2 separate regions of the Homo sapiens genome follow, and region 2 is linked to region 1. The links come from fine-mapping of genetic effects on gene expression. Tissue or cell type: whole blood. Region 1 holds a variant in brackets; the other region holds the start of a gene. All regions are shown on one strand. Distances are between the middles of the regions.

The links. PIP is the estimated chance that this variant, and not a neighbour inherited with it, causes the effect.
Region 2: it holds the start of BLK, and the variant in region 1 is fine-mapped to the expression of BLK in whole blood (TOPMed, PIP above 0.99).

What each region holds. Positions count from the first base shown.
Region 1 is chr8:11,544,906-11,547,533 of GRCh38, forward strand. BLK (BLK proto-oncogene, Src family tyrosine kinase) reads left to right here. Exons shown (of 13, transcript NM_001715.3): 3 at 1,147-1,198. Among named protein-coding and RNA genes, the nearest start is that of BLK-AS1, 12 kb to the right of the region's middle. RefSeq lists enhancers at 1,223-1,382, 1,753-1,802 and a silencer at 1,583-1,632. The variant C/G (reference allele first, on the strand shown) is at 1,355.
Region 2 is chr8:11,493,268-11,495,767 of GRCh38, forward strand. It overlaps BLK (BLK proto-oncogene, Src family tyrosine kinase), which reads left to right and starts at 1,120. Exons shown (of 13, transcript NM_001715.3): 1 at 1,120-1,324. RefSeq lists a cis regulatory region at 1-1,433 and enhancers at 1,053-2,252, 1,142-1,331, 1,342-1,431.

The sequences.
Region 1 (2,628 bases):
AAGAAAGAGACTCGTTCCTTTGAATCTCCCTCCTCCCTCCCCTGTTTGTACCCTTCACCCCAGGCCCCAATACCCAGAATCTGTTTATCATTCCTTAGCTTTGCTTTTTAATATTATCACATATGTATTACCCCTAAACGATATTTAGTTTCATTATTCATGTTGTAAACTTTAAATCAACTACATCAAACAGCGCATATGCTTCTGAGACTGGGGTTGTGGCTCCGTGTTACGCATGTGAAACATATCGACGTTGATGCACGTGGCTGTTGCTCATTAATTTTATTGCCTGAGTATACTGTAATTTGTTTATTCTTCTGTCATGAGGGTTAGTTCCACGTTTTAAAATTGTTTATGTATCGGTCGGGCATGATGGCTCACGCCTGTAATCCCAGCACTTTGGGAGGCCGAGGTGGGAGGATCACTTGAGGCCAGGAGTTCAAGATCAGCCTGGCCAACATGGCGAAAACCTGTATCTACTAAAAATACAAAAATTAGCTGGGCGTGATGGCGGGCACCTGTAATCTCAGCTACTTGGGAGGCTGAGGCACGAGAATTGCTTGAACTGAGGAGGCGGAGGTTGCAGTGATCCGAGATTACGCCACTGCACTCCAGCCTGGGCAACAGAGCGAGACTCCATCTCAAAAAAAAATTGTTTATGTATTATGATTTTTGCTAGGAGCCCTCTTGTACACATTCCCTTGTACACTCTTGTACACATACACAGAAGTTTCTCTACAGGATATATACCTACAAATATGTTTGTCGAGTTTTGGGGAAATATGCTTTTTAAATATTTTTTCTTGTCAACAAATACCCGTTTGCAGTTTGATCTTGTAATGGTAGAGCCAGGATGTTAAGCCCAAGTGGTTGGGCTTTCCCTCATTGTCCACAGCTGTCTCATATCCACATTGGGGCATCCCCCAGCGCGGTCAGGGCAAAGGCAGCAGAGGGCGGGGGTCTGTCTGAGGGTAGTGCTGGTCCCTGGGTACAGAATGTCCCTGAGCAGCCCCCACAGGCAGCTGCCTCTCCTCCTTCAGTAGGTCCCTGGAGATACCCTGGCTGCCCGGCTCAGCAGTCTCAACCCCCAGGCCCCACCCACGCAGCAGGGACTGAAATAACTCAAGTGTGTGTTTTCTACCCAAGGTTGTCTTCAACCACCTTACTCCTCCACCGCCCGATGAACACCTGGATGAAGGTAAGAAGGGTGGTTTGGGAAGCTGAGGCTCCACAGCCCTCTCCCCTAGGTGGCAGCTTTGTGGAGTTGGAAAAAGGTTGAGTCAGGAGCAGCTTGAGGGCTGGAGAAGAGAAAACGGGGAAGCTGAGAGAGGCCCCGGCTCTGTGCCTCTTGGGG[C/G]GTCTCTTCAGGAACCAAGAACAAGTTTCTTCAGTATGCCTGAGCCTGGGTGGGACTTTTAAAACATGAAAGACTTTACAAACTGTAAACAAGAACAAAAACAAGAGTCCCAGGGAAGACACACAGCATCATCAAACCCAAGTTTTAAAATATGCTAACTCTCAAACGCAAAGGGCTGGGCCAGTGGCTCCAGGCCCTTGCCTCCAGCCCCTGTCCGCTCTATGTGGAGGGCACCTTCTTGTTTCCCGCTCCCAGTCACTTCGAGAGTCCCGCTGCTGACCACCTAACCACCCACGCCCCTACCTGGTCCCCAGACTCCACTTGGTTTTTTTTGAGACAGAGTCTCGCTCTTGTCACCCAGGCTGCAGTGCAGTGACCCAACCTCAGCTCACTGCAACCTCCACCTCCCGGGTTCAAGAGATTCTCCTGCCTCAGCCTCCCAAGTAGCTGGGATTACAGGTGCACACAACCACACCGGGCTAATTTTTATGTTTTTACTAGTGAGGGGGTTTCACCATGTTGGCCAGATTGGTCTTAAACTCCTGACCTCAGGTGATCTGCCCGCCTCAGCCTCTCAAAGTGCTGGGATTACAGGCGTGAGCCACTGTGCGTGGCCCCTAGACTCCACTTCTGCTCTGGTGGGCTGGCCTGCTGGGTACTGTAGGGAATGAGCTCAGCCTTTCTGGGCCAGAGGCTCCACCCCTGGGGACTCCCAAGAGGGTGGCCTCCTTCAAAGTGACTTCCCGCAGCCTCCTCATCATCCATGTCCACACAGCATGGGGAAGGGATGCCTCGGCCAGCCGGGCCCCACCCATTAACCTGCTCATATGATGTGTACTGGGCATTCAGCACACAGAGCCCAGCTCTGTCCCAGGAATGGCGAAGGGGTGACAACAGGTAGATGCGACCCCTTCCCTGGAAAAGCTCAGAATCTGTCACACTTGTGAGCAGAACCTGAATCTTAAAACTTCAGGGAACCACTGTCACCCATTCTGACCCTCGCTTTCCTGCTGAGAAGAGGTGACCAGCCCGAGGTCACAACACTCAGCTCAGTGACAGAGCGGAGCCACCCCACCCGGGGAAGCTAAGTGCTCTCCAGGTGACCTTCATCAGGTGGGTCCTGTGGCTCCCAGAGCTGTGCAGAGAGCCTGCGTCACAGCAGGGCTCACTTGAAGATGGTGCTCCAAGCTCCTGAGCCCTCTTCCTGCCTTCCATCCAGGGCCCGCCAGCAAGGTGGGGGGCCCGGCAGGGTCACTGGCAGCCATAGACAGTGT
Region 2 (2,500 bases), 52 kb before region 1:
TTCTCACAAAACCCCTTGGGGAAGTGAAACAGATTATTTCCATAGTGTCTTAAAACCCCAGAACTCTGCGTTGCTGCGTCTATTGACATGAACACCTGTCAAACCTGCAACTCATAGCTCAGTATTGTCTCAGTCCAATCCAAGGAAATGAACTCCTTGAGAAAGCTGACATTCTGGACCATGGGGTAGAAGCTACCCTGTCTGCCTCCCACACCCACTCTCAAGGATCCAAGACTATGAAGGGAGAAGAGAGAGCCCACCGAGTGACTTCCTCTTATAAGCCAATATCAAGACACTAGTGGAAAGGAACCAGCTGACCAGTGGCTCACTGTGTCTGGCTGGACCAGCAAGACTCTGACGTCATCACAGAAGCCTTCTTGGTCCCATTGGTCCTTTGACTGCTGTGTACAGGATGCCACCCACCACTCCAGACACCACTCACCACTCTAGATGTTGGGATCCTTCTCCCGTTACCTCCATTATTCTTGTTCTCTACTCCTCTGAGTTTTCATAGCCAAGCAAATTTCCACCATTGAAGAGGCTCTGAGATCCAAGTCAACTAACTACTGGCTAGGGTACTGTAAAACACATGGGAAATTAGCTTTTACCAAACACCAATTCTATGCCCACCATTCATACCCATTCTACCATTTAATGCTGATAGTATCCTGTGAGCTAGCTATTATTAGCATCATTTAAAGACAAAGCAAAACCAGTGAGGCTGAAAGAACGGCTGCCCTGGTGCACACAGATGGCACATGGCAGAGCCCAAGCCCTCTCCATGAGATCTGCAGCGTTTGTCCACACGGCAGGGCAAATTACCTTGTAGAGTCAGCATGGAGGTTTGCTAACTCTGCCGGACTTGGTGCAGAAAAAATACCAGCCGTGCTGTTAAACCAAAACCCCAGGAGAAAACTTTCTGGTGACAGAAGGGCATTGTGACCCACGTTGCCCAGGGCCAGGGACAGGGCAGCTGCTCATGGTCCTTCCTCACGAGTTTTCCTGGAGCAGAGGGATACCCCCAAACCCAGGGAGCCCACAGGAGCTTCAGAAGGGCTCGGCTGGAGGGCGGGGCCCCTGTTGCACTTGCTCACTGGGGACTGGGGAGGCTCTGATCGCAGACCGGGGGTGCTGCCACCTCTGTCTGCTGCCGGCAGAAAGCCACAAGCCATGAAAACTGATTGAGATGAGAAGAATTCATCTGGGACTGGCTTTTGCTTTAGGATGGTGTTGGAAGTTGCTCGTTGTCGCTAGGAGCCTGCTCCACTGTAAGGGTGTCAGGATCTGAAGAGCTATGGTGAAACACCACTGAAGCATTGCCAAGGTGAGGCCCTGCGTCTTCCGGGTTCTTTATCGTCTTCCTTTAAATTGTGCAAATGGTGCTGTAAGGCCTGTAGTGGGGCAAGCAAGCAAGGACATTGCTGTGGGTGCCACAGACGGAGGAAGAGGCATGAATGGATCGCTGCCTCAGCTATGAATAGATTGCTCCATGGTTTGTGCATTTCCAGTTTTGAGAATTTTTAATTTATAAAAGGTCATCCATCCAGGGTAGATTCTGCTTTTTGGAAAAGGCAGTGAATGTGCCACAGAGGAGAGAAGGGACGTGGGATGTAGAGAGGGGGTTGAGCGGGCACACACAGGCCACTGCTGCGCTCCCGGCGAGTCACTCGGCCTCTTGATAGGAGGTGATATTGACTGTGCAGAGCTGACAGAGGTTAGTGGTCACAGGCGGGGAGCATCTGGCTCAAGGCAAATGACTGTTGCTTTCGTTTTATTTGTTTGTTTCTGAATGAAGTTGTTCCATTTTTCAGGCATTCAGGAATGGGGTAACTGAATAGATGTAATGATGATCTTCTTGTTTAAGAGATCTATTTCACCAGGAAACACCAACTGTGAAAAGGAAAGCATAGTTGATCACATATTTTGAAAGGATTTGTGTAAATTGTAAGGTTTTGACAACGTTTCCATTTATCTGGTAATGCGGGTGGATGAAGTTCACCCTCATCCACCCACATTACCAAGGAACTAAGGAATTGTGCGTTTGCAGTAACAGAAGAAATTGCTGTGATATGTGCATATCCTCCTCCCTCGGGAGAGTGGGACTTAATTCCCCTCACCTTGAGTGAGGTTTGGACTAAGAGTATGGAAAGGGAGAAATAGTAGCTCTGTAGAGGAGAAACCTGCAGATGCCAGCTTCACCAAGGGACCAAGCTTAGCATCACCGGGAATAAGCTGGGCTGCTATTGTGAACTGCCACGACAGTGCGGTTCTTCCCACCAACTCATAACCCCAGTCAAATCATGAGAAAACATCAGACAAATCCAAACTGGGGAAGATTCCACAACATATTTCACCTTCAAAAATGTCAAGGTCATGAAAAACAAAGAAAGACAGGCAAAGCGTCACAGATCAGAGGAGACATGATGGTCAGGACACCCAAACCCAGAATTCGCATCCTGTATTGGATCCTAAAGCAACACCGCAAAGGTCATTAGTGGAA